Linked DNA regions of Homo sapiens: region 1 is linked to region 2. The links come from fine-mapping of genetic effects on gene expression. A gene starts in region 2. The other region holds a variant in brackets. All regions are shown on one strand. Distances are from middle to middle.

Region 1 (9,597 bases), 41 kb before region 2:
TTTAAACATCATACATAGTTACCAAAGAGACAACGCAGTCATAACAGCATCATATGTACTTCTCAAGCAGATTTTGCACATATAGTGTGGCACCATATATAGTTGTCAAGGTGATAACACAGATATCTTGCAGCATCAAATACTGTCATCAGTGAGATTACTCATAATATCATGCATAAGTATTTTTAAATTGATGTAAACATAGTATAAATTAATGTACTGCTGTTAAAAACAATGCAGACATAGCATATAACCATAAGTGGTTGTCAAGGAGATGATTACATATTAGATATAGTGTAGCAGTACATTATTTTCAGGGTAATAGTCATACAGGGTCTCAATAAGACAATGAAGACATAATGTTGCATCATACATGGTTATCAGGGAAATCACAAAGATTTAAATGCCACAGATGTTTATTAGAAATATGTGACTGATAAAATAGCTATCATGAAAATATGCAGAAATAATGTATAATCATATGTAACTTTCAAGGTGATGGCACAAACATTGTAGCATTATAAATTGTCCTAAATGAGATGAACTACGGCATAATATCATAAGGAATTTTCAAGGACATGATATAGACAATAGTATAACATTGATGTGGTTATCAAGAAGAGGAAGTAGATACAGTGTAGCATTATATATGGCTATTAAGGATATGACACATAAGATAGCATCACATATGGCTGACAGAGACAATTATATTTTAGCACAATAAATGGGAGTAGTGAGATGAAACATAGTACATATATTCAGTGTTATTAAGAAGACCAAAACAGAGTCTAGTACCATAGGATTTACTACAGACAGGGTATGTTACAGCATCACACATCATTCTCAAGGAGATGATTATCAGAGGTTATTGTCAAGGAGGTGTCACAGAAATAGTTTAGCATCACACAGGGTCATTGCAGAAAAGACATAGTTATAGTATTAATCCCACTTGGTGTTCAAAGAGATAATGCAGACATCTTCCAGCATCAAACATGGTCATTAGGAAACTGACCCATAAAATAGCATACTTTATGGATATCAAGAAAAAGAGGCAAATATAGAATAGCATATACATAGTACTTAAGTTGATGACACACAAGTGATGACACATACATAGAGTAACACCATACATTACCATCAAAAAGATGACCCATAATAGATTGTCATTTGAGAATATTGTGGAAATAATAAAATCATAGTATAGCATCATATATCATCATCAAGTAAAGGATGAAGATATAGTTTACATCACTACACAACATGAATAAAAGCAGAGCATCATATATTTATCAAAGTGTGCTGCAGTAATACTATACCATAACACATACTTAATAAAATTATGATGCAGACAGAGTGTGGCACCATATGTTTTTGTCAAGGGTATGATGCAGACATTATGTAGCATCACTGTCATCAGGGAGTTTAGCCATAGTACAGCAGTATCATACATGGCTCTCAAGGAGGTGAAAAAGTCATAATGTACCAATATATGTAGTATGTTAAAAGATGATACAGACATAGTATAGCATGACATGTAGTTGTCATGGTGGCCTATAGCCTAGAATTATATATGATTATCAATGATGTAAACATATCATGTGATTAAAAGGATGACATATATTAGTACGACATTATCTAAGACAGATATCATATTGATTCCAACATAAATTTCAAGATGGTGATGAAAACATGTAGCATCATAGGTGGTTTTCAAGGTGATGACCCTGATAAGATGTAGCACAATACATGTTAATGCAGACAGTGAAGTAGACATCATGTATCCTCATAAGTGATCATCAGTGAGATGAGGCAGACAATACAATGCCAAATGTGGGCATAAGGGGGATGACATAATCTAGTGTAACGTCATATGTAATCTTCTTGGATATAAGGTGCACAGAGTGTAGCATCATACATGGTTTCCAAAGAGATGACACAGAGTGGCATCACATATGGATATCAATATGATGGCTCAGCGTAGAATCATAAGTAGTAATCACTATTTATGACAAGTAACATAGATCACTACTTATGACAAATAACATAGATCATCAATGGTTGTAAAGGAGATTTGGTATACATAGTATAGCATCATAGGTGGTTATCAAGGAGATGGTGCATATAGTATTATAGCACCAGCCACGGTTATCAAGTTTAAGATGCAGACATATTGTAGCATCATACATTATGGTCAGAGAAATGACCCAAAATATAAGATAATCCTCAGTACAGGATCATAGATGATGAAGACACAGTATAGCACCATATTTGTTTATCAAGGAGGTGGTGCAGACATAGTACAGCATCACTCACGGTTATCAAACAAATGAGGTAGACACAGATGTGATGTGAGGTCCTATGTGTTTATCAAAGAAATGCCACAGAAATATTGTTGCATTATAAAGGCCTTTAGGAACATGAATAGACCTAATGTAAAGAAAGAGAGAGAGAGAGAGAGAGAGATACAGATATATGACTCTCTCTCTCAATAGATTAGATAGATGATGATGATGATGATGATGAAGATAGATAGACAGACAGACAGACAGACAGACAGACAGACAGACAGATAGATAGATATGATGACTGTCTTCTGGCAGAAGGTGTAGACATGTTGTAATGTCATACATGATGATCAGGGAGATGACAGAGACACTGTAGCATCTCAGTGGCCATAAAGAGCATGACATATGCATAGTACAGGGATATATGTGGTGTACAAGGATTCTACAAAGATTGATTTTAGAACCATACACAGTGCCAAGGAGATGACACATGTATAGTATCACATGGTTATCAGTGGGATGATGTGCATGTAGAGTACCATCACATATGGGAATTTTAAAATGGCACATAGGATAGCATTATACATGAATATCAAGGAGACGACATGCATGAATGCAGCACTGTGGGTTTTCCTCATGGAAATAACCTATATTATGGCATCATAAATGTCACAAAGGAGCTGGTCCATATAAATATCAGGCATCATATGTGGTTATCAAGGAGAAAAGCATTATCTGTGATTTTCAACATGATGAAACACACAGTATAATGTCACATGTGGTTATCAAGGTGATGACTCAGAAATAGGGAGATATAACACATGGTTATAAAGGCGGTAACTTAGTATATCATCTATAGTTATTAAGGAAATGAAGTACACATAATATAACATCACATGTCGATATGAAGGATATTATGTAGTCATGTTTTAACACAATATGTGGTGATATCAAGACCCAAACAAAGGATAGTGTCACAAATCATCATCAAGAAGATGATCTTCTCATGCGAGGTTCTGAAAGATGAATCCTAAAATTGCATGTCACTTTGTTATCTAGGAGATGATTCAGATATAGTACAGACTCATACATGATTGCGATTGTAAAGGAGATGACAGAGAAATAGTTTAGCAATATACATGCTTGCCAAATGTTCAAGCTCCTTTGTAACATTTATGATGCTATAAGCAGTGATAATATTGTACAACATATAGCTGTCAAGGATGGGGCATCAAACATGACCATCAGTGATAGGACCCAAAATGTGGCATCATATATGGTTGCCAAGGAAATTTGGAGTGATAGTGTAGCATACATAGTTGTCTAAGACATACAGATGCAAACGTATGAGAGCACAATCCACAATTATCATGTTTATCATTGCAGACACATGGCAGCTTTTTATATGATCATCAAGGAGATAACCCAGAATATGCCATCCTACATGATTAACAGGTAGGGGATGACAGCAGTATAGCTTATGTATGGTTTTCAACAAGGTGACACAGACATAGGGAAACATTTTTGTTTTCAAGGAAATGAAGAATACAAATGAAGCAGAATAGGCGGTCATCACTGAGATGACAAACACAAAGTGTAGCAATGTCCAGACCTCCAGTGATATGAAACAGACATACTAGACAGTGCAGCATTATATATGATCATCAAGAAGATAAGGAACACAGCATGTAGCATACCATATTGTTGACAGCAGATGACACAGGCATAGTTTAGCATCACGTCCAGTGATCAAAGAGATGAACACACCGGATAACATCAAACATGATTACCAAGAACGTGACATAACTCGGGCGGCTGAGGCAGGAGAATCGCTTGAACCTGGGAGGCGCAGGTTGCAGTGAGCCAAGATCGTGCCACTGCACTCCAGCCTGGGCGACAGAGCGAGACTCCATCTCAAAGAAAAAAAGAAAAAGAGAAAGAAGG[T/C]GACATAGATATAGCATAACATCATACATGTTGACCATGGAGATGAGGCAGAATGTAACATTATACTTGGTTCCAGAAAAGACAATGTACACACATAAGTCAGTATAGTATGGTATGGTATGGCATAGAAGAGTAGAGCATAGCGTAGCACAGTATAGACACACAGACACAGCACAGAGCCAAATATTGTTGTCATGAAAGGATCTATACATAGTGAAGCAGGATATATGGTCATGAGAAAGATGAATCAGATAGTATAGGGGCATAAGTGTCAGAGAGATGGCACATATGTAATGTAGCTGCCATTTGTGGTCATCAGGGAGATGATGTAGACATAGTGTAATCTCATAAAGGTCCTAAAGAGAGGTAAGAGATAAGATAGCATCACATGTGGATATCAGGGATATAACACATACGTTATACAGCATCATATGTGGTAGTCAGAAAGATGATACAGAAAGTACATGTGGTTATCAAGGCAATGACACAGACATAGTGGAGAAATTATAAGTTGTTGCCAAGGAGAGGATGAAAACATGTTCTTACAAATAAAATGATCATCAGGGAGACAAAGTAAATATATTATAGCATCATCCTTAAATAACTAGGCCATGTCACCCATAAGGTATAGCACAGCCCTTTGTATAGGGCATGATGAAGTTACAGTGTAATATAAGTGGTTTCAAGAAGATGATAAAAACATAAAATAATATGCAGTTGTCAGGCAGAAGCAGCAAACACACAGTATGTCATATGTGCTATTATATGCTGAATTGTGTCCTTTTAAAATTCATATGTTGAAGTCCTAATTCACAATATCTCAGAATGTAATATATATATAATATATATAATCATGTATAATTTTATATATACACATGTGTATATATACACATGTATATATGTATATATGCTTATACATACACGTGTATATATGTATATATACACGTGTATATGTGTATATACACGTGTATATATGTATATATGTATATATACACATATGTATGTATATATACACATATATATGTATGTGTATACATATATATATAACTATACATGATTCTTAAATATATGCAAGCATAGTATAGTTTCATCCATTGCCAAAAACATGATGAGACATAGTATAGCTTCATATACAATTGTCAAGGATATGGCTCAAAAAATAGTATAAGCTTACTTAGGTTGTCAGAGAGATAATGCAGATATAGGGCGGTGTTATATGTTATCAGGGAGATGACACATAGCATAGTTTCATACAAGACATCAGGGTCTCATGGATGATTGGATGCAGAAAAAAAGTATCTGGGTGATGACACATAATTTTGTGTCATATGAAGATACCATGGATTCGACACAGATATGTTGTAATGTCACAGGTGCTTATCATGAAAATGAAGCAGACATACTGCAGCATCATAAATAGTAGTCAGGGAAATGATGCAAAAATATTGTATCATCATACCCTGTTTTCCAAATGGCATGGACATAGTGTAGTATCATATTTGTAGGTCCTGGAGATTAATTGTAGCCTAGTGTAATAAATGGTTATTATGAATATGATGCCGAAATAGTATAAAGTAACATATAGCATCTTATGGGGTTGTTAAAGGGGTGATATAGTAATAATATAACATCACACATCATTGTCCAATACATTTCAAATAATGTAACACCACATATGGCTGTCTAGAATATGAGGGGTGTGTGTGTGTGTGTGTGTGTGTGTGTGTTCATCCACAAATATATTCATCAAGAAGATGGGGTCTCACTCTGTCACTCAGACTGGATTATAGTGGCATAATCATAGTTCGCTGTAACCTTGAACTCCTCCTGGGCTCAGGTTATTTTCCTCAGCTTACTGAGTAGTTAGGTCTACAGGTGCATGCCACCACACCTGACTAATTTTTGTTTTAATTAGCTAATTTTTGTTTAATTTTGTAGAGATGGGGTCTCACTATGTTGCCCAGGCTCATCTCAAACTCCTGGCCTCAAGCGATCCTCCAATCTTGGCCTCCCGAAGTGTTGAAATAACAGGCATGAGCCACCACACCTGGCCATGATGCATATATTATATAGCATCATACATGATCATCAAGGAAATTGTCATAGTACAATATCATATATGACTATCAAAGAATAAGGTACGCATAACACATGTTTTAGGATACCTCAGAAACATCACGATGTTGTATTTGGTTGTCAGGGAGATGATGCAGATGTAGTATAATGTCATATGTGGGTAACAGGATATACACACACAGTGCGGCATTGTGATGGTTAATTTTATGTGTCAACTTGACTGTGTTAAGGGATACCCACGTGGCTGGTAAAACATTGTTTCTGGGTGTGTCTGTGAGGATGTTAGACTGAGTAAATAAGAGCCACCCTCACCAATGTGGGCAGGCATCATCCAATCCATTGAGGACCCAGATACAACAAAAGGTGGAGGAAGGATGAAATTCTCTCTTCTGGAGCTGGGACATCCATCTTCTCTGGCCCTCGGTCATCGAGCTTCTGGTTCTCAGATCCCCAGACTCCAAGACTGACACCAGTGCCCTCCTCAGTTCTCTCAAGTTTTTGGCCTCAGACTAAGAGTTACACCATTGGTCCCCCCAAGTTTTTAGGTTTTCAGACTTACACTGAATTATACCACTGACTTTCCTGATTCTCCAGCTTGCAGATGGCATATGGCAAGACTTCTCAGCCTTCATATATAAATATGTGTGTGTGTATACTTATATAATATTGGTTATATACTATATATATGTGTGTGTGTATTTATATACTATTGGTTATATACTATATATACTATAAACAGAATTATATACATAGTATATATAGTGTAATACATATAAATATATAATATATAAAAATGTACAAATATATAATATAAAAAATACATAAAATTATATATAGTATAAAACAGAACCAATAGGAGACAGACAGACAGACAGATAGATAGATAGATAGATAGATAGATAGATAGATAGATAATATCACCACCTTTCTAAAGGTGGTGATGTGATATAGTGGACCCTGCAGACATGTTGGCCAGGGCAATGAGGTATAAATACTATAGCATCATACATGGATTTCTAAGAAATACTAAGATATGGAATAGTATCATATATGGTTATAAATAATTGGATAAAGATACAGTATAGTATCATACATTATTATAAAGAGGATAAAAACAGTGTAAATTAAACATAGTCAGATACATGACATAGATACAATATAGCATCATATGTGGTCATCAGATAGATAACAGACTTGGTGTAGCTTCACACGTGGTCATCAGGTAGATGGTATCGATGTAGTTTAGCATCATCTGTATCTTCAGGAAGATGACACATAGTTCATACTTCAAATTCTATGCCTCACAGAATAGCATCACGCATGGTATGTGATGTCGATATGACATAGACTTAGTATAGCATCACATATGCTTGCCAAGGAGACATAGGATGATGGAGACATAGTATAGTACCATGTGGTTATCAAGGATATGGTGTAGACATAGTTTAGTGTAAAATAGGAAATTGTCAGGGAGATAATGTAGAAATTGTATAGTGTTAACACATGTTTTTCAGGAATATGCTGCAGACATAGAGTAGCATCATAAATACTTGCCAGGGAAATAGTGCAGACACAATGAATCATCACATATGTTTGTCAAAGAGATGACACATAATATAACATCATATATGGTTGTCATGGGAATGACTTGTTGTTCAGTATCATAAAATGTTATCCAGGACATGATGCATGCATAGTACACCAACACAGATGGTCGTCACTGAGATAATAAAAACATCATATAGCATTGCATGTGGCTTCAACGAGATGACGTGGACAGAGTGTTAGTATCATACATATTTGTCAGCAAGATGATCATGGTTTTGCATCATATATGATTATCAAGGATATGATGCAGATATGGCCCAGCATCAAATGTGGTTTTAAAGGAGTAGATGAAAACACAGTATAGCATAATATGCAACTTTCAACAAGATGATGCAGATACAGTGTAGAAATAAACATGATCCTTAGGCGATAAGACAGACACAATATCATGTCACATGTGAGCAACAGGGAGATGACAGATATAGTGTAGTGTCACATGTGACTGTCACAGGATTGAAGCACACCTAGGATAGCACTATATATGGTTATCAATAAGATGACACATAGTGTAGAATCACAGTGGTAATCAAAGAGACAATGTATAGCATAGCATCATGTATGCTTATCACAAAGATGCAGTAGACATAGCGGAACAGCACATGTGGTTATAGTAAAGGAGATTATAGCACCATTGATGGTAATTAAGTTGACAAGGCCAACATAGGGTAACATCATATGTAATCATCAGGGAAGCTGGGCACGGTGGCTCACGCCTGTAATCCCAGCATTTTGGGAGGCCAAGGCAGGTGGATCATCTGAGGTCAGGAGTTCGAGACCAGCCTGGCCAACATGGAGAAACCCCGTCTCTACTAAAAATACAAAAATTAGCCAGGCATGGTGGTGCATGCCTGTATTCCCAGCTACTCGGGAGGCTGAGGCAGGAAAATTACTTGAGCCTGGGAGGCGGAGGTTGCGTTGAGCCGAGATCGCACCACTGCACTGCAGCCTGGGCAACAGAGTGAGACTCCATCTCAAAATAATAATAATAATAAAAATCAGGGAGATGACCCAGAATATAGCATCATATACAGATATTAAGAAGATGACAAAGACCTCATATACCTCGTTATGTAGGAGGTGACACAGACATTGCATAACATTACATGTGGTTATCAGGTATATGATATAGACACACTATTGTGCCATACATGGTCACGATAGAGATGAGACATGGTTTTTTATCATAGCTGGTCATCAAAGAAATGACCCATAGTGTAGAATTATGCATGGTTATCAAGCAAAGCATAAATCTCTCCAAAAATTAAAAGAATGAACAGATCACCTACCATCAGCTGAAGCAGTTGCAATAAGCTTTCCAGTGTAATCAAAGCAGCTGTCTAGTATTTCATCATCATGGCCTGTTAAGGTTGCCACACATTTTCCATTTGTAGCATCCCACAGCTACAATTAAAAGAACAAAAAACAAAAAAAAAAAGACTATGACTTTCTGTCTGAAGTGTGAAGATGGCCAGTGGTCTTCATGACATGCTTATGGCTGGTTAAATAACTGTGCAAAAATCACTTGTGTAATTCATGCATGTTCAGTTAGATTTACTTTGATTCATGACCAGAGACCACAGCCAACCATCAAGCAAGGCACACTCTAGTCACAGAGAAAACCAAAGTCAGACATTTAGAATCTGCCACTACATTAAAGAAAGAAAAAATATCTCAACGTGTATGC
Region 2 (9,597 bases):
GTAGATTATTCGAGGCAGAAAGAACACCAACTGCAGACCCTGGGTGGGGACACCTCTGCCCCATTCAAGGAACACCAAGGAGAGGAGTGTTGCTGGAGGGAAAAGTCGAAAGTGGTGAGGTCAGGGAAGCAACAGGGGGTGAGATTTTGCAGGGCCTTGGGGATCATGGTCCTTTTACTTTAAACGAGCTGAGAAGTCATTGGAGGGCTGGAGCAGAAGAGTGACATGGTCATATTTATGTTCTAACAGAGCCATCCCATTGCCATATAGACTGAAGAGGGGCAAGGGTGGAAGGAAGCTTTCAAGCTAAAAAGAATGGTAGTGGTCAGGTAGTAGAAATTGTTGGATTCTGCATATATTTTGGAGGCAGGACTAGCAGGATTTGTTAGTGGATGTGGAGATGAGAGAGAGACAAGGAAGAGTCCAAAATGTTTGGCATGAGTAAGTGGAGAAATGGAGCTGCAATTTGCTGAGATGGGGAAGACCATGGGAGACCCCCACATGAGATGTACGGTGGACATTCAAATGAATGTGTCGGGTGGGCACTCAGGTACTCAGGACTATGCGGGATGGTTTGTTTTTTGTTTTTCTGTTTGTTTGTTTGTTTGTTTGTTTTGAGACAGAGTCTTGCTCTGGCACCCAGGCTGGAGTGCATTGGTGTGATCTTGGCTCACTGCAACCTCCACCTCCCAGATTCAAGCGATTCTCCTGCCTCAGCCTCCTGAGTAGCTGGGATTACAGACCCGCACCACCACACCTGGCTAATTGTTTTGTATTTTTAGTAGAGACGGGGTTTCACCATGTTGGGCAGGCTGGTCTCGAACTCCTGACCTCAGTTCAGGATAGTTTTTAAGCCTTGAGAATGGATGAGATTGCATAGTGTATGAGTGTAGATAGAAAGGAGAAATCCAAGGTTGGGGCTCTGGGGCACTCCAACATTAAATAATCAAAAAGAAGAAGAGGAACCAACAAGATAGACACAGAAGAAGTGACGTGAGACAGGAAGGAAAATAGAATATGTGTCCTGGAAGCCAAAGAAAAGCAGAGTGGTTGAATGCTGCTGTCAGGTCAAGGCAGGCAAGGACTGTGGCTTGGCCAGTAGATTAGCAATGTGAATGTCATTGGAGATCTTAAAGTGGGCAGTTTCAGTGGGGCAATCCGCGTGAAAACATGATAGGAAGGGAGGACAGCACTTGGGGAGAGTATTCTTCCAAAAATTTTCTCTACTCTGAAGAGAAAGAATCAAATAAGATAAGAAGCTGGAAGGGTCTAGTAGACCTGTGAAGTGGTGCTGTTGTCACCATGTACCCATGCTTTGATAGAATAAAACAAATTGCCCAAGTTTTTTTATTATTGTATATGGTGAGAAGCCGTTATTCTGAACCCAGAGCTCATATTCTTAACCTACACTCCACAACAAAGAGATGAAAGCAAGAGCTTCATTTATTGGTACATCTATGGGAACCAGCACAGGCCTATGGGCAAAAAGAGCCAAAAGAAAATTATGGAATACTTAAAGGAAACAGACTATTAGTCTTAATTTTAAATTTTCTATATACTATCTACCTATGCCTAATTTAAATTTCGTAGATACTCTCAGCCTGATGCAGTGGCTCACATCTGTAATCCCAGCACTTTGGGAGTCCAAGACAGGTGGATCACTTGAGGTGAGGAATTCAAGACCAGCCTGGCCAACATGGTGAAACCCCGTCTCTGCTAAAAATACAAAAATTAGCTGGGCTTGGTAGTGCACACCTGTGATTCCAGCTACCTGGGAGGCTAAGGGATGAGAATCATTTGAATCCAAGAGGTGGAGTTGGATTGCACCACTGCACTCCAACCTGGGTGACAGAGCAAGACTCTGTCTCAAAAATTAAATTAATTAATTAATTACATAAAATAAATTTATCTAGATACTGTCATATATATAGCTTTCTCATATTATTTTAACTGGAATTCTATGAAGGAGAAAATGCATGTCTTTTCTACAAATGTCAACTTCCCATTGGAGAAAGTAGCTGTCCAGGATCGGTCTTCCAGGGAGGCAGAAGCAGCATCCCTTAAGATTTTCAGTGTTTATTTTCAGTAATTTCCATACCTGACCTCTCATCAAACACATCCATTTATCCATACATTCATTCAACAAACATTCCTGATCTTCTGTGTCACCAAATCTCTTCTAGAAGCTGAGGGTGCTACAATGATCAAACCACACTAAGATCTTAGTTCTCACGAAGTTTACATTAAATGGGAAAGGGGCAGACATTTGAAACAAAACAAGTAGAGTTTTGGATGATGACAAATATAATTTTTAAGCACTTTATGGCATAGAGTAAAATCAGTGCAGGCTACTTTGAATAGGTAGGAAAGTCTCTTCAGGTGGTTGACATTGATTGAAACTGAATGAAGAAAAGGAAGCAGCTTTTCCTAGCTCTAGGGAAAGCTGGGTCCAAAAAACGAATGAGTGAAAGGCCCTCTCTTAAGTCTTAGAAGAACAAGCTAAAGAAGTCAGAAGTATAGTGAGGGTAGACAAGTGAAGTTTTAGAAGTCAGCAGCACAGAATGAGCCAAATCCCACAGGTTGCGGATCGTATTCTAAGCATGATAGGAAGCTATTGGAGATCTTGAATTCAGATCCCACTGGCTCCTAGTGGCAGATGGATTGTAGGAGATGAGGGTGAAAACCAGGAATCCAGTTGAAAAGCCACTGGAGTGGCTCAGCCAAAGGGAATGGTGGCTGGAATGGAGGGTTGGACTAGGTTGGCAGCTGGAAGGGATGTTAGACCAAGAAATCTGTGCTATGGAAAGAGGGATAATCTGATGGATTCACAGAATATTTTGGACTTAGAGCTGGCAGAATGATAACGGAATGCCGGGGGTTGGGGGGGTGGGGGAGGCAGTGAATGATCACAGGAGAGAAACAAAAAGTGACCACCTAGGTTTCTGGCAAAAAACAGGCTGGGTGATGATGCCTTCTACTGGCAGGGCACAGTTTGAGGAAGCAGCAGGATTGGGATGGGACTGGAAAAAAGAAATCATGAGATCTCTATGCGATACCTCATCGGCGATGTTGACCAAGCAGTTGGATGTGTTGCAGGGAAAAGTGAGATATTCAACCTGAAATTCAAGTCCCACCCCTCATAAAGCTATTCTTAACAAAACCGGTCCAAAGTATCTTACCCTCCTTTGAAATCTTTATGACACTTCCTATCCAAACTTCATTGGGCAAGTGTATTTGGTTATCTTCTGCCTTGTGGTATGTTTTGCAGATTTTTTTCTTTTTTTTCTTTTTTTTTTTTTTTTTGCAGATGTTTCTAATTCAGAAGACGAGTTCTGAATTAGAACCCAAGAATTGCACTCCTATTTCTGTCCCTAAGAAGCTGGGTGATCAATGGGTGTCACTTATTCTTTAAAGGTGACCATGTCCTCACCTAAAATTAGAGTTAGGCAAGGATTAGGTAATTAATGTATTGCTTATGTTACTAAGTAATAGTTAAGTAATTTATTTCATAATTACTTCACTCATTGAAATCAAGCACTATGAACTTCTTTAAAGGTCCATAGCAGAGAGCACAAAGCGTGTACGCAGTAGGCACTCAATAAATGCAGACAGACTGACATGCACAGTCAAGCTAAACTCTTTAAATTCCTAAAAGAGTAATTGTTAATGTTTTGAGGAAGAGTCCAGCATCTGAAGGAATGAGGGGCACAGGTTGGGAAGTGCCCGACTTCCTGCCCCACCTGGGGACCCCGCCGCCTTTCAGTGGCTGCGCCCTCCTCCGCCCCAAACCCTCCCAGTCTGGGAGCCCAGGGTCCCACGTGGGGATGACGGGGCCGGGCTGGTGCGTACCTGGCGGGTAATACCGGAGCAGGAGGCTCTTGAGCTTCATTTTCTTGCTCTCTTATCCCCGGCCGATGGGCTTCGTAGCCTTGGAAACGGCTAAACAGCAGCGGGACGCGGGTGCGCATGCGCAGGTTGCACCGCGCGGTCCTGGGGCGCAGAGCTGGGAGGTCTGGCTCCGCGGGCGGTTGGTGGCGACCCGGGGCTCCGGCGCGCGGGGGGCGAGTGTTCTGGAGGTGTCTAGAGTGAAAGAGGTGAGGGCACCTCGTGTCCTCACTAAGGGCGACCTCAGAGGAGCTAGGCATGGCCGGGAACCGACGGCCTAGGCCACAGCCTGGGCTGCATGCACTTTTTTAGCACACTGCGTTTCCCAAAAGGAAGGCTGGGAGGAAAAGCCCATCGCTAATTACTACTCTAGGGCCCCAGCCCGTGCCCTGTCCTTGTCCTCCCAAAAGAAAAATGACCTCAACTTAATATTTTGCATTTCCTGACTCTGTGCCCTACATTGCTTTAAACGGTGTATGCACACATACTCATACAATCCTAACAAGGTGTGAGTTATGCACCACTTCTTAAGGATGAAGTAACTCAGAATTAGAGAAAGTGGAGAACTACCAGAGGTCGCAGCCTAAATGGATAGGCGGGAATGGAAGGCAGGTGCGTCGGAACCTACACCAGAAAGCCTACACCTGTGCTCTCAACCTGGGCTTAAAACTCTCCAGGCCTTCATGCGGCTTGTCCAATTTCTTGCCAGCATCGTTGTTTGCCTGCCACGTTTCCATGAGAAAGCCTGCGGAGAGACAGAGTCAGCCAACCAGCTTGTCAATTTCCTTTAAGGAATTTGGCCTCAACTGGAATTTCTCAAACTTGAGTCATTCCTGTGTTATCTGCGCAACTATGAGCCATATCTCTCCTTACCTCTTCCAGAGATCCATACCTAAGTTTTAAGTTCTTAAAATGTCTCTAGATTGACTCACTTATTTTACTTCACTTAGTAAAATGTAATCTTAAAAATTACCTTTACTTTTACAGTTACTGGCTGTTTACTGAAAATTATATGAAATTTAATTCCATCTGTGAAGTTTTTATTTCTAAATTTAAAATTATATGAAATTTTCAGTAAACAGCCAGTAACTGTAAAAGTAAAGGCAATTTTTTAAAGGCGTTGAATTGCTTGTTAAAGGCTGAGCCATCGGGAACTTGTGCGTCCATCTCAGGGAGACCTGGCCTTCAGAGATGACAGCATTCAGCCCCAGGAGGAGCCTGCAATTCGTCCTCGGTCTTCCCAGCTTGTGCCCCCCATGGGGATACAGGACAGTAAGGAGCCAAACAGAACCTGCTGCCTGAATGGGGGAACCTGCATGCTGGGGTCCTTTTGTGCCTGCCTCCCCTCCTTCTATGGATGGAACTGTGAGCACGGTGTACGCAAAGAGAATTGTGGGTCTGTGCCCCATGACACCCGGCTGCCCAAGAAGTGTTCCATGTGTAAATGCTGGCACGGGCAGCTCCGCTGCTTTCCTCAGGCATTTCTACCTGGCTGTGATGGCCTTGTGATGGATGAGCACCTCATGGCTCCCAGGACTCCAGAACTACCACCGTCTGCATGCACCACTTTTATATGCTAGCTGGCATCTGCCTTTCTATACAAAGTTACTATTAATTGACATTGACCTATTTCCAGAAATATGATTTTAGATATCATTCAAATTTCATGACCAGTAAAGGCTGCTGCTATAATGTCCTAACTGAAAGATGATCATTTGTTAGTTGCCTTAAAATAATGAATACATTTCCAAAATGGTCTCTAACATTTCCTTGTAGTACCAAATACTTCTTACCTCTTTGCCCTGCCCTCCCCACAAAAACTACTTCTTTTTTCAAAAGAAAGTCAGCCATATCTCCATTGTGCCTAAGTCATGTTTCTTGATACATGTAATTCTACCAAGGTCTTCTTAAAAGTTCTTTTAAACAATTGAATATTATCTTCAGATTATTAAAGACCAATCCTAATGTGGACCTTAGGATACAGTTTTGAGTAGAGTTGATAAAAATCAATTAAAATAGTCTCTTTAAATGGAAAGAAAGCCTCTTTAAGGGGAGGAAACAGAGGGCTGAAGGAATGGAAGTTCATCTGCATGTATGCAGGGAGACTGGGTAGGAAAGAGGAAGCAAATGGGAGAGAGAGGTTGGAAAACATAAAATGGGTTACTTGATGGTGATTAGGTGGGTGTAGAGAAGAAAGTTAAAAGGCTAAATGGAAGGGTAAGTTTCCGTCATCTATAGAAAGCTATATGAGACAAGGACTCCAATTTTTTTCCCAAAGGTGTTGTAAAAAGAATGAAGTCTCCTTATAAAAAAAAAATTATACCTCAATGTCCCCAACAAGACTGCTTAATAAATTATGTTTCCTCCAAGCTATGCAATTCTTTTAACTGTTGTAGAAGAGAAAATGTTCACAATATATTTAGTTGTAAACCAAATGATAAAACTACATATTGTAAAGCCAACTTTTAAAATACATTGTATATATGCGTATGCACAGTAAAAATGGAAAATATATTGACCTAAAGGCATTGAATTACTATATACTACTATATATTACTATATTACTATATACTAATTACTATATACTGCCAAAGACTCTGAACCCAAAACCATCCCTTTCTTTGTAAACAAAGGAAGGAAGAAAGGAAAGAAAGAGGGAGGGAGGGAGGGAGGAAGGGAAGGAAGGAAATTAGCAACTGTTTGAGATTGTTAAGACAGGCTACAAGACGGAATAGCACTCAACTGAGCCTTCCTACTTGATGTGTTCAGAAGATTGAAAAGATTGTTGAGATGGCAAAGCCTTTGCTACTAAGTGACACAATTTAACCCAATATAAATGTGCAAAAAAAAAATCATCTTTTTCTCACCAGTAGTAAGCATCCCATACTTGGAAAACAGGGAACCGTATGAAATCCAAGCTCTCTCCCAGCTCAAACTTTCTCCTAGCCACTAAGACACTCTGGAAGGACTTATGGAGGGAGGGGCAAAGAGTTTGCTCTATAGAAATGAGAAAGTCTTTGGTAGATTTTGGTCACCTATGTTATTGCTTGTGCTCATGCCATTTAAAATGTGATCTTTGGGTGGGGCACCCATTTAAAACGTGATCTTTGGGTGGGGCACGGTGGCTCTTACCTATAATCCCAACACTTTGGGAGGCCAAGTTAGGAGGATTGCTTGAACCCAGGAGTTCAAGACCAGCCTAGGCAACAAGGCAAGATCCGGTCTCTACAAAAAAATTAATTAGCTGGGTGTGGTACATGCCCCTATTGTCCCAGCTACTCAGGAGGCTGAGGTGAAAGGATCACTTGAGTCAGGGAGGACATCACCAATAGTGGGACAAACTGACATATATTACCTGGTATTACGATGCACTGAAGAGAACACAGCAAAGCCGGGTGCAGTGGCTCATGCCTGTAATCCCAGCACTTTGGGAGGCCAAGGTGGGCAGATCATAAGGTCAGGAGATCGAGACCATCCTGGCCAACATGGTGAAACCGCATCTCTACTAAAAATACAAAAATTAGCTGGGCGTGGTGGAACGTGCCTGTAATCTCAGCTACTCTGGAGGCTGAGGCAGGAGAATTGCTTGTACCAGGGAGTCGGAGGTTGCAGTGGGCCGAGATCGTGCCACTGCACTGCAGCCTGGCAACAGAGCAAGACTCTGTTAAAAAAAAAAACAAAAAACAATAAACAAAAAAAAACAGCAATTCTCTGGAATTCCTGCCCAAAATGAATTACTTGACTCAAATCATAAGGAAACATCGGAGCAAACCAAACTGAGGAAATTGTATAAAATAACTGTTGACAGTCAAGGAAAGAAAACTCTAAAGAAATACTTGAGATTAAATAAATCTAAAAAGGACAACTAAATGCACTGAGTGATGATAGATCCTGAACCAGAATAATAATTACTTACAAAGGGCATCGTTGAGACAATGGATGAACTCTGTATATAGGGATTGTGGTTTAGATAATAGTATTTTATCAGTGTTAAGTTTCTTGACTTTGATCATTGTACTGGTTATGTAAGAGAATGTCCTTGTTCTTAGGAAAAGTATACTGATTTATTTCAAAATAAAAGGGCATGCTGGCACCCTGATCTCAGACTTCCAGCCTCCAGAACTGTGAGGAAGAAGTTTCTATTGTTTGTGAGCCACCCAGTCAACGGTACTTGTTATGGAAGCCTGAACTAAGACATTCCCACCAGGACCTGCCTTGAACAACCAGAAACTAAATAATGAGTAGCAGTAATTTTAATCTCCTAAACCAATCCAGGCTAATACAGTGAAGTCACTCTAGGCTTCAGTTCTCCAAGCATGGTTCCCGGACCAGCAGGGTCAGTATCACTTAGGAATTCATCAGCAATGTACATTTTCGCCTCCCCCGAGTCCCGACCTACTGAATCAGAAACACTGATGGTGAAGTCCAACAACCCATGTTTAAATGTGCTTTCCTGGTGATTCTAGTGAATGATGAAGCTTGAGAGCCACTGTGCTAGCTTAATAGGTTACACTGGCTTGGACAGAACGAAGTGAGTGAAATTGGGCTTCATCTCCAATGATCAGGTCTTTCTGTGTATTCCAGGCAGTCTTCCCTGATTGTCAGGAACAGTAAATTGATTGTTCAACCACATCCTCGAATGTAAATGAGAACCAGAAACAACACGGGAAGAAGCTGGAATTTTCTACATAATTGGGTTTCAGATGCTCCAATGCACTGAGAGAGGACAGTGGACATCAGGCTGAGGGAAGAATCAGAAGGTACCTGGGAGGATGGGAGTTGGGGAGGGAGGTAGTCTCTAAAATCAAAATATGTATGGTGGCTCTGGTGGCTCACGCCTGTAATCACAGTGCTTTGGGAGGCCAAGGCAGGAAGACTGCCTGAGCTCAGGAGTTTGAGACCAGCCTGGGCAACAGGGAAAAACCCCATCTCTACAAAATGTACAAAAATTAGCCCAGTGTGGTGGCACTCACCTGTAGTCCAAGCCACTCAGGAGGCTGAGGTGGGAGGATGGCTTGAGCCTAGGAGGCGGTGGTTCAGTGAGCTGAGATCACACCACTGCACTCCAGCCTGGGTGACAGAGCCAGAACCTGTCTCAAAATATATATATATATATATGGATGTAGTATATCTATACATATATATATTTATATTTATAGAGAGAGAGAGAGAAAGAGGAGGAGGAGGAGAAGGAAGAAGGAGTCAGTCCGGGGGATCCAGATTCTGTATTTTTGAGGCTGGGCAAGGTAAGGGAGGAGTAGGGCTTCCGGCTGCGGCTGGGCTTGGTGGATTCCATTTGGCTCAGCTTCTCCTGGAGAAAACCAACTTCAGTGAGATGACTGCATCACTGGTGTTGGAGCCTCACTGAGAGCAGCAGATAAAAAGAGAGATGCAATCCTCTCCTAGAAAGAGAAGGCACAGATGCTCAGAGCCAGGCAGGAGCAGTCTGCTGTGCACAGGGTTTAAAGGTGACCTCATCACAGCAGGCCCCAGAGCGGAGGAACGGCATCAGGGTGGGGGCATGTGGACCAGACATCGCCATTTACCCTCTTCCTCTGCCTGCCTCCATCCCCACAGCAGGACTCAAAAGCATCTGATCTTACCTGGGACTTGAAAACTAACAGGGCCAGGGCCACTAATTGTATCATTCAATAAATGTGTATAAAGGACCTGCTAGTACCAGGCATGCTGCTGTTATAGATCTAATTCTGA

Which allele goes with the higher level. Alleles are on the strand shown, and positions count from the first base shown. SD is a standard deviation of normalised expression in the study named.
For the expression in fibroblasts of the gene that starts at base 3,948 in region 2, C is the high allele of the variant in region 1 and T is the other (moderate effect, 0.41 SD a copy in GTEx).

Evidence for each region. PIP is the estimated chance that this variant, and not a neighbour inherited with it, causes the effect.
Region 1: its variant is fine-mapped to the expression of DAW1 in fibroblasts (GTEx, PIP above 0.99).

What each region holds. Positions count from the first base shown.
Region 1 is chr2:227,906,855-227,916,451 of GRCh38, reverse strand. It overlaps DAW1 (dynein assembly factor with WD repeats 1), which reads right to left. Exons shown (of 13, transcript NM_178821.3): 10 at 9,200-9,314. Among named protein-coding and RNA genes, the nearest start is that of DAW1, 40 kb to the right of the region's middle. The variant T/C (reference allele first, on the strand shown) is at 4,230.
Region 2 is chr2:227,865,982-227,875,578 of GRCh38, reverse strand. It overlaps DAW1 (dynein assembly factor with WD repeats 1), which reads right to left and starts at 3,948. Exons shown (of 13, transcript NM_178821.3): 1 at 3,850-3,948. The coding sequence starts at 3,889. It also overlaps the pseudogene CRIPTOP2.